2 separate regions of the Homo sapiens genome follow, and region 1 is linked to region 2. The links come from fine-mapping of genetic effects on gene expression. A gene starts in region 2. The other region holds a variant in brackets. All regions are shown on one strand. Distances are from middle to middle.

Evidence for each region.
Region 1: its variant is fine-mapped to the expression of MAP3K14-AS1 in whole blood (TOPMed, PIP 0.97).

The regions. Positions count from the first base shown.
Region 1 is chr17:45,267,699-45,273,062 of GRCh38, forward strand. MAP3K14 (mitogen-activated protein kinase kinase kinase 14) reads right to left here. Exons shown (of 16, transcript NM_003954.5): 10 at 3,360-3,523; 11 at 2,715-2,865; 12 at 1-61. It overlaps MAP3K14-AS1 (MAP3K14 antisense RNA 1), which reads left to right. Exons shown (of 4, transcript NR_110326.1): 4 at 311-932. Among named protein-coding and RNA genes, the nearest start is that of SPATA32, 8.3 kb to the left of the region's middle. RefSeq lists enhancers at 1-140, 5,295-5,364. The variant C/T (reference allele first, on the strand shown) is at 2,545.
Region 2 is chr17:45,245,242-45,250,576 of GRCh38, forward strand. It overlaps MAP3K14-AS1 (MAP3K14 antisense RNA 1), which reads left to right and starts at 2,684. Exons shown (of 4, transcript NR_110326.1): 1 at 2,684-2,762. It overlaps FMNL1 (formin like 1), which reads left to right. Exons shown (of 27, transcript NM_005892.4): 22 at 12-175; 23 at 391-492; 24 at 637-732; 25 at 969-1,089; 26 at 1,264-1,363; 27 at 1,626-2,077. The coding sequence ends at 1,355. It also overlaps the pseudogene EFCAB15P. RefSeq lists silencers at 237-407, 2,342-3,071 and enhancers at 2,162-2,231, 3,482-3,531.

The DNA.
Region 1 (5,364 bases), 22 kb after region 2:
TTTGGCGGTGGATGTCTTGGTTCTTTATATTCTCCCCTCCAAGGGCTCTTCAGACCTCCCACTAGAAAACAGAGAGTACAATGGTGAGGGGAAGCGTGCTGTGCACAGACAGCGGTCCAGGCAGGAGCGGCCTCTCCTGAGTGCAGAAGGGCTAGAGGCAAACAAAGGGGAGGACACTGCCCCGGGCCACCATGGGAGGTGGCTCCAGAGGGCAGCATGGTGGTCTCCACAGGAGACTTCCTCAATAAAATGGTCCCAATATGACAGGGATAGGACTGGATTTCTGTCTTTGATTCTGTTTTTCTTCTAGGTATCAGTAGCAAATTCAAAAACTACAGAATCAGCTCCAGAGGACTTTGTTAACAAGAAAGAGAAGATTGAAAACAGCCCTGGGGCTACACCAACTCAAGAGCTCCCAGGCAAAGTGGCATCCTGGACCCACCATCTCTCCTACCCCATCCTCAGTCGGTACTTCCCCAGGCACCGTTTGTTCTGGCATGGGGCTAGTTCAGCCCTGGGACCACCCTCATCCTTATAACTACCAGCTGTCTTTGGTGAGGTGCAAGATCTCTCTGGTTTTCTTTATTTCATTTTCATTCCTATAATCACAGCCTTTTTTGTGCCCATCCCTCAGGTGACATTCTATTATGTTTGATGTGTCATTTTTGATTTGGTTGTGTCCTTGCAAAATGTGCGTTGTTTTATTTATCAATTTATTTTTATTTTTATTTTTTTAAAGAGATGAGGTCTCATCATGTTGCCCAGGCTGGACTCCAACTCCTGGGCTCAAGCGATCCTTCCACCTCAATCTTCTGAGTGGCTGGGACTACAGATGTGCGCCACCATACCTGGCTATTGATCAATTTTTAGTTTACCAAACAGGCATTATGTTCTGGGTCCCATTCTGTGTCGGGTTCTCTTTTCACTCGGCACCATGGCTTTAGGATCCATCCATGCTGCTCTGTGAACGCCGAGTTGCTTTAACTGCTTGGTGCTCCATGAGGCATCCCCTTTTGTGTCTCTGTCCTCCCAGTGAGGGACCCCATCGTACCCTACTCCCCTCCCACAAAGGAAGCTGTAGTGCGCGTCCTCAGGCGTGTCCCCATATGGATCTGCTGGCATTCGTTTGTCAGTGCACCCAGGGGTAGAAGTCCTTGGTCTCAGTCTGCAGACGTCTGCCTGAGTGCAGCCAGGTGCCCCCCCAGAGTGGGTAGCCTTGTCCACATGCCCATCAGCAGCACCTGAGGGGTCCCAACAGCCCTACATCCCACCAACTTTCTGCTTTTTTCCAGTCAAATGGCTCTTGAGTGTTACCTGGCTTTATTTATTTATTTATTTTTTGAGTCGGGTCTCTGTTGCGCAGGCTGGAGTGCAGTGGTGCAATCATGGCTCACTGCAGCCTCGACCTTCCAGGCTCAAACAATCCTCTCACCTCCTGAGTAGCTAGGACTACACGCATGTGCCACCATGCCTGGCTAATTTTTAAATTTTTTTGCAGAGAAAGGGTCTTGCTATGTTGCCCAGGCTGATCTTGAACTCCTGGCCTCAAGCGATCCTCCTGCCCCAGCCTCCCAAAGTGCTGGGATTACAGGTGTGAGCCACTGCTCCCGGCCTGTCTTTATTTTGTATTCTTGGATTCCTAGTGAGTTTGAGCCCCCTCTATACATCATAACCCTTATGATACTAGTAAACATATATTTTATCTTTAACCCCATTTCTGGCACAGAACTCCTAAAAGCCTTACTCTCCAAAATGATCTCTTTCTGTGTACTAATGGATTGACTGAAGGCTGGCAGCCCCTAGGTAGCTTCAAGATGGGGGCTGGTCATCAGAGAGACATAGGCAGGATTAGAGGGTTGGGACTTTCATCCCACCATCCCACGTACTGGGAGGGAAGGGGGCTAAAGGTTAAGCGGTTCGCCAATGGCCAGTGATTTATTCAATCATGCCTACGTAATGAAGCCTACACAAAAACCCAAGAAGACCGGGTTCAGAGAACTTCTGGTAGCTGGGCACATGGAGGTTCCTGGAGGGTGCCAAGCCCTGGAAGCTCTGTGCTCCCTCCCACATGCCTTGCCCTATGCATCTCTTCATTTGTATCCTTTGTAATATCCTTTCTAATAAACTGGTAAATGTAAGGAAGTGTTTCTCTGAGTTCTGTGAGCCACTCCAGCAAATTAATCAATCCCAAGGAGGGGGTCATGGGGTCCCTGACTTATAGCCAGTTGGTCAGAAGCACAGGTAAACACGTGGGCCTGAGACTGGCATGGCTAGGGGGTGCAGTCTTGGGGATCGAGCCCTCCTGCTGTGGGATCTGATGCTACCTCCAGGTAGATAGTGTTGGAACAGAACTGAATTAGAGGACACCAAGCTAGTGTCTGCTGCAGAACTGATTGCTGGCTTGGTGGGGTGGAAATCCCCACACATGTGGTCACAGGAGTCTTCTGGGTTGATTGTAGTTGAGTGGGAGAATGGAAAAAGCACTTCGAGTTTGCGTGTGAGTTTTCTCTTTCCCATCTCCTGAGCGCTGCCTCTGGGTCCAGG[C/T]GTGGCACTGTCGCAATCTCCCAACAACCCTGAGGCTGCTGCACCCCCATAATCCAGAGGGGGAAACTAAGGCTCTGAGGGGTGCCTTGCTCTGGACCTGCGCCCACCTGCCTCCTCTGTCCACCTCTGTCTTCTGCCCCCCGGGTCAGCCAGCGTGGGGCTCTTCCTACCTTGCTGTAGTGCCCGGTTCACCTTCCCTCCCAGCTCCGCTGCAGACACGCGGTGGATGGGCTCTTTCCTCAGCCCCTCTTGGATGGCCTGGGCTGTGAGAGGGGCGCAGGAGGGTGGGATCTCCCTCACAGGCGGAGGCTCGCTGGCAATCTGGGGGGCAAAAGACAACAGGTGAGGCCTGCCTTCCCTCATTTCCTGATACCCGGCTGTTATTGCTCTTTGCGCAACTCCCGCCGGCCCCTGTTCCCGCTGTGCTGGGGTCTACCACAAGGAATGGAGGGGTCTGGGCTACAGTGAGGGCACTTTTCCCAGGAAAGGGACAAATGGAGCCAGTAAAACAGGCCAGAGCCAGGCAGCAAGACGCCCACAGCCTCCAGGCCCGGCCCGTTAGGAGGCAGGTGGATGGGGCCCAGGGTATGGACAGAAGAGAGTTCTCACCTGCCATGAACTTGGTGAGCCTCCGCAGCTGGATCTCCCCTTGTACCCCCAGATTTGGGTGGCAAGTATTTGAATTAGGATCCCACATGGATGACCAGGCCTCCCCTTGCTCCATCTGCCACCGCAGAGCAGCCCCTCCAGCCTGCAGCCTGGGCCCCAGGGCCCTGCAGCTCCCCCTGTTGGCCATGCTGGGTGCCGTCACCGACCTTGAGGCAGAGCGGCCCTCGGAAGAACTGAGTCCAGGGGTGGCAGCCGTTGAGCATGTGCAGCATCATACAGCAGCTGCTCCAGACATCCACCTTGGCGTCGCAGCTCCTGCCCAGCACCACCTCCGGAGCCATGTGGGTCTCTGTGCCAGGGATGTAGTCCCCTGAGAAGGGGGATGAGACATAAAGTTACCTGGAATGCTGATGGGCAGGAGCCTAGGCAATGGCCACCCTGGTTAATCCTCGGGGTATCTTACATTTGTCACTGTTAAAGTACTTTTTATTTTATTATCTTTTTAGTTCTTTGAGATGGAGTCTTGCTCTGTCACCCAGGCTGGAGTACAATGGCGCGATCTTGGCTCACTGCAACCTCCACCTCCCGGGTTCAAGAGATTCTCCTGCCTCAGCCTCCCAAGTAGCTGGAATTACAGGCATGAGCCACCATGCCCAGCTAATTTTTATGTTTTTGTAGAGATGGGGTTTCACCCATGTTGGCCAGGCTGGTCTCGAACTCCTGACCTCAGGTGATCCACCCACCTCGGCCTCCCAAAGTGCTGAGATTACAGGCATGAGCCACTGTGCCCGGACATGTTAAAATACTTTAAATATAGAAATAAAGTCTCCAAGTCAGACTTGTAGGGAGGAGCTAGGCGGGGACTCTGCTGGGAACTTGTACAAAGTAACAGAGCATCCATGATGTGGACTCTGCCCTTTGGACCAAACCCTTAAAGTGTTTTTTAAAAATGGGGCAGGGGCTGGACATTACAAATTAGGTTGTAGAAGGCTAGTAAGTAATACCAGTAAGTAATACTTCTTACTAGTAAGAAATACTAGTAAGTGAAATTTAAAAATTGTAATAGAAAACTTATATGCGTAAAAGACTGAAAGGATAGATGGCAGATGTGAACAGTGGTTTTTTTCCTGGTGATTTGTATTTGTAATTTTTGCTTAGCTCTACTTTCTTCAACAGATATTAGAAAAAAGGGTCAGGCAGTGGCTCATGCCTGTAATCCCAGCACTTTGGGAGACTGAGGTGGGAGGAATGCTTAAATCCAGGAATTTAAGACCAGCCTGGGCAACATACTGAGACCCCATGTATATCTACAAAAAACATAAAAATTGAGCCGGACATGGTGGTACATGCTGTGGTCCCAGCTACTCAGGAGGCTGAGGTGGGAGGATCGCTTGAACCAAGGAGCTTGAGGCTGCAGTGAGCTATGAGTGAGCTACTGCACTCCAGCCTGGGTGACAGAGCAAGACTCTGTCTCTAAAAAATAAAAGTTAAAAAGAATCAGAAAAGATACATTTTTTTTTGTAACAAGAAAAAGCCCACTACAGTTATTTTAAAAGGGCTTAAAACAACACGGGTGGAGGTCAAGTGTCCACATTCAATTTACATCTTCAGAATTGCCAACATAGTCCTTTAACAACACACAATCATATACTTCCAAAGATTCTTTTTCCGTTGGTCAAAATGAAATCATTTTATCCTTAAGGCTATACATGAAAAACGCAGGGCACAAAATTGTGTTATAATGGCCCTAACTAGGCACAGGGAAAACAACAGCCTGGAAGGAGTTATTTAAAATATTCATGATTCGGCCGGGCACGGAGGCTCATGCCTGTAATTCCAGCACTTTGGGAGGCTGAGTGGGGCGGATCACCTAAGGTCTGGAGTTTGAGACTGGCCTGGCCAATATGGCAAAACCCCGTCCCTACTAAAAATACAAAAATTAGCTGGGCATGGTGGAAGGCGCCTGTAATCCCAGCTACTCAGGAGGCTGAGGCAGGAGAATTACTTGAACCCGGGAGGAGGAGGTTGCAGTGAGCTGAGATTGTGCCACTGCACTCCAGCCTGGGTGACAGAGTGAGACTCTGTCTCAATGAAAACAACAAAAAAATTTGTGATTCTCTCTCTGGGTAAGAGACATGGTGAGAATTCTGTTCTCTGCCTCTTTTATATGCTTAACTCTATACTTCACAGTGGGCATGGATTATTTCAATA
Region 2 (5,335 bases):
CCCTGGCCCAGTGTCCCTGGACAGTGTCCTGGCGGACGTGCGCTCCCTGCAGCGAGGCCTAGAGTTGACACAGAGAGAGTTTGTGCGGCAGGATGACTGCATGGTGCTCAAGGAGTTCCTGAGGGCCAACTCGCCCACCATGGACAAGCTGCTGGCAGACAGCAAGACGGCTCAGGTGCGCCAGGGCTGGCCTCACCTGGAGGTGGGGCATGTAGGAGCACTAGATAGCACAGCCTGGAGGGGTGTGGCCGTAGCTGGGACCCCTTGGGGGGATGCAGCAGGAATGAGGGGCCACCCTGCCTGGGAGGAGCTCAGATCAGGTGGCCAGTGTCCTGAGGGGTACAGGCTGTGAGAGGTCTAAGCTGGGGGGCTGACAGGCTGTGCCCACAGGAGGCCTTTGAGTCTGTGGTGGAGTACTTCGGAGAGAACCCCAAGACCACATCCCCAGGCCTGTTCTTCTCCCTCTTTAGCCGCTTCATTAAGGCCTACAAGGTATTCGGGTCTGGGGCAGGCTGGGAGCCCTGTAGGGCACTGAAGCCTTTCTACTGGGCAGCGGAGGGGTGGGGCTGCTTCTGTTTAGGGGGTGGGTAGGGCAGTAGGGAGGGCCACCCTCATGGAGACTGCCTTGGCCCACAGAAAGCTGAGCAGGAGGTGGAACAGTGGAAAAAAGAAGCCGCTGCCCAGGAGGCAGGCGCTGATACCCCGGGCAAAGGGGAGCCCCCAGCACCCAAGGTAGGCAACTGCTCCTGGGCTTGGTACTGGGCTGCAGGGATGCATGGCATCTCATCACCCTCTGGTGCCACCCCCACACCCTCACTGTTACAGACTGACCCTGCCCCAGGAGCCTGGGATGGGAAAGGGTTCTTTCTGCTCAAGCCAGCTGTCCTTGCTGTGGGGGACCAGGCAGATATTCCAGGGTTTTGGTGATGGGGAGGCATCCTGGAGCTGGAGCTATAAATTCCCCCTAGTCACCGCCAAAGGCCCGGCGGCCACAGATGGACCTCATCTCTGAGCTGAAACGGAGGCAGCAGAAGGAGCCACTCATTTATGAGAGCGACCGTGATGGGGCCATTGAAGACATCATCACAGGTAAGGGCTTGGCCAGGCCTTGGTCTTATCCTCAGTCTGTCCTTCTATGCTTTCTTCTGACCCAATGCGCTATCCTCTGGGGGACTGGCTGCCACACTGCTTCTTGCTACCTTTTCTGTTTTTCTTTCCTTTTTCCTTTCTCTACTCCCCTTCACCTGCCCCACCCCCACTCAGTGATCAAGACGGTGCCCTTCACGGCCCGCACCGGCAAGCGGACATCCCGGCTCCTCTGTGAGGCCAGCCTGGGAGAAGAGATGCCCCTCTAGCCCCTCAGGTACCCAGATGACCTGGCCTCTGATACCACGCTGCCCACAGCCCCTGGGACCCTTGGGAGAACTGAGGCATGCTGCCTTCTCCTGGGCCAGTGGATGGCTGGGATGTGATTTGTGGGGTGGAGGGGTCTGGCAAACATAAACGGTACCCCTGCCATGTGCACACAATCTGAGTCCTTAGGAGGCTAAGCTTTGTGCCCTGGAGCCATGCTCCCAGCTCTGGGCGGACTCCTGAATGGTAAATGTGTCTCCTTCGGCTGCCAGATCTGCGGAACCAGCCCTACATCCGCGCAGACACAGGCCGCCGCAGTGCCCGTCGGCGTCCCCCGGGCCCCCCACTGCAGGTCACCTCCGACCTCTCGCTGTAGCCGCTATTTCTGCAGGTGGATTCTGCAGGGGTGTGGGGCCGTGGACAGGCTGAGGCTCAAGGAAGGTGGTCCTCAGCTCGGCTGGCCGGGCAGCCCCTCCTCCGCTGTGGCCCGCCTCAAACGGGCTGGTGCATCCTCCTCTTGGCCACAGAGGGCAGCATCGCCCGCCCCTTCCCCCAAATGCTGCTTGCAGCACCCACCCTAAAGCCCCCTCCAAATAGCCATACTTAGCCTCAGCAGGAGCCTGGCCTGTAACTTATAAAGTGCACCTCGCCCCCGCAAGCCCCAGCCCCGAGGACCGTCCATGGACCTTATTTTTATATGAGATTAATAAAGATGTTTGCAAAAGATCCGCGTCGGCTCCATGCCTGCCGCAGCCACCCGCAGCCTGTTTCCGCTCAGCAAACGCTTTACTTGCACAAGCTCTTCATAGCAGGCCTCTGCAAACCAGCGGGCGCCGGGGAGAAGGGCTGCTTCTTCACTAGAGTTGGCGGCGAGGGAGCCCGCTTCGAGGGGGCGGAGGCTTTCGTGGCTGGCCCAGTATCCCTGCGGGAGGCCGGAGGGGGCGAGCGGGCAGCTGGGGTTAGACACGCCGGGCCAGCCCCGCAGCAGTTCTCCTTCCGGCTGCCCCGCCCCATTTGCGCCAGTCCTGCCTCCCACCCGGGCATCTGGCCCCTTTTCCTTTCGCCCTACCCAGTACTTAGTGACGCCATAAGTGACCTCGCCTTACATCTCCGCGCGTGCCGCCTCCGTCACCGCCTGCCGGGTCCCCATTTCTTCCGGGCCTGCCCCCGCTCCTCGCCTGCCCCTCCCCTCCACCAGCCAGTGTCGCCCCATCTGTCTGTCCTCCGGGCACTTGTCCCGCCCCTCACTGCGTGTCCCTCCCCCGCCCGCCGGCTCTCACCTAGGCCGAGACACGCCCCGGGCTGGGCGGGATCTTGGGGCGGCCGGGCTAGTAGGGCTGGATCAGGCGGAAGCCGGGGCCCGGGGCTGGGCTTCGTGTCCTGCGTTCCGGGAGCGCCAACCCCTCCAGGTTAGGAATCTGAGAGTACGGGCTGCGCGCACCTGGGGCGGGTGCCTGGGAGGAGGTGGAGGAGGAGACGGTCCTCAGAACGGGTCCTGGGGGTCGGAGGCGAGGGCGGGGGTTGTAAGTGGCCGGGAGAGGTCCCTCCCGCGGGTCCCGGCGCCCCCCGCCCCGTCGGGGACGCACCTACTTCGTGCAGTTTGTGCAGCGAGCGCGCCAGCTCCTAGTTGGAGAGGTCGCTGATGCGCGCCGCGTGGCAGAAGGCGAGCCCCGCGTGGGAGCGCCCCCCAACCCCCGCAGCCTGGGCTGAGCCGCAGAGCCCGCTGCTTCTTGAAGTAGTAGCTTGGAGAAGAGAGGCGGGGCGGCCGCCTCAGACACTCCCAGCCCTCTCTGTCTCACAGGTGCGGAAGCCAAAGCAGGGCCGGAAGCCGCTGCTTTGTCTTTGTCCTGGGGCGACTTGGGGCCCAGGAAACAGACTCAGAATTCAGGGCTCCCGTCTCTAGGGCAGGAATATCAGGGGTCCCTGCGGGGGGCAGGGTTTGCTCCTCCCATTGTGGGCCCAGGAGCTGGTATGGTTGTGCCCACCTCATCACCCCCCGTGCCAACTTGGAGGGCACAAAGCCCCGGCCCAGCAGCTTGAACAGCATTTCCAAGAACAGGGTCTGCAGTCCCTGGGGGTACAGAGCTGGCTGTTCCTCACCCGGCTTGGGGGCAAAAAAGGTGAAGGAGGGTGAGGAGGGGGCACCCCCTAAGCCAGGCCCACCCCTCCTCCACCAGCCTTGCCCCTCACCCATGCACTGAGCCAAGCGGTGGTTGTCATCGAAGACACCCAGGAAGTCAATGAAGCTTACGATTCCATCACCTGGGGAGAGAGGAGAGGGGGTGCTGTGGGTGCCTGCCCCCTGCAGAAGGCCTGCCTTGCACATGCCTGCTGGCAGTTCCAGGTGTTAGAGAATCTAGTCCTGCCTCTAGCCAAGGGCAGACCCCAGTTTCAATGGGGGAGAAACGGCCCATGCCTTGGGGGTTCCCAAATCAGGATTAGGATGAACACAGCAGCAACGTTTACAGGCCATGAGATAGGTGTGTTGGTCAGGGCAGGCTTCCTGGAAGAGGGAACTTTAAAATAGGACCAGGCCAGGATTTTGTGGGAAGGGGAGGCATTCTTTAAAAGAATGCCTGGAGGTGGGAGGGGACAAGAAGACAGGGTTGGGGCACCCACCATCCAAGTCTGCCTGCCGCAGAGCCTCGAACGTCTCCTGTGGACTCAGCTGGATACCCACATTGCCCAGGGCAACTTTCATGCTGTGCATGTCCACGGTGCCTGTTGGGCTGGAGCTGAAGAGTTTGAAGATATCCTGGAAGGCTGAGGGTAGAGGGGACAGGTGGCAAGACGAACCACCCACACAAGAACCCTGAGAGCTGCCCACTCTAACTCAGGTGGAACTGACGACTTGGCTCATTCCAACTCCCTCCTGGGTGTTTTAAATTTTTATTTATTTATTTATTTATTTTTGAGACAGAGTCTCACTCTTTGCCCAGGCTGGAGTGCAGTGGCGAGATCTCGGCTCACTGCAGCCTCAACCTCCCAAGGCTCAAACGATCCTCTCGCCTCAGCCTTCTGAGTAGCTGGGATCACAGGTACGTGCCACCACGCCTGGCTTATTGTTTAATTTGTTGTAGAGATGGGGTTTCGCCATGTTACTCAGGCTGGTCTCAAAGTCCTGGGCTCAAGTAATCCTCCCGCCTTGGCCTCCCAAACTGTTGGGATTACAGACATCAACCTCCACACCTGGCCTATAACTTTTAATATAAAGAGTAGCAGTGGCTGTTGTGTGTTGGTACATGTTATGTGCCCATCCAGTCCTCATGTCCAAAACTCATGTTTGAAAAACATTCAAAACTCATGTCCAAGGTCACATCTGGCAGTCTGGCTCTGAAGCTACAGTGTCTTGGAGCCCTGCTGGTGCCTGGCATGTAGTAGGCACTGACCATTGTTGATGATGAATAAAGTGATTCTGCTTTGAGGGGCCCTTGCCAATATCAGGACATGTTGTTTGGGGGAGCACTGGGGCTGTAGTTTCTTTTGCCTTTACCCCTATGGTCCTAGACCCCATGAGGCAGGGGAACTCAGATTTTTCCCCCCATTTTTTCTCCTTCTTTACCTTCTCCCTTCTTTTCCATCCTGTTCATCATCCATCTATCCATCCATCTAAATACCTGCATTCACCTATCTACCAATCCACTGAGTTTTCTTTTCCTTTCCTACACACACACACACACACACACACACACACACACACACACACACAAGACTGTGAGCCCTAGGGTTGTAGAGATGAGCAAATCAGACAAGCATGGAGGGATGGTTGCAAACACTGGCTTCTTGCAGTGACCCCAGCTTCAGGGCAGGCAATCCTTTGTAGTTTTTCCCTGAGCACCCCCTAATTTTCTTCTCTACTCCCAGTCCTGGGGCCCTCACCTGCCAGCTGCTGGGGTGTCTTGCCTGTCAAGCTGCCCCAGGAGAAAGAAAGAGGTTGGAAAGGTCTTTGCATCTGTTGCATAGAAATGCCAGGGCTAGCCAG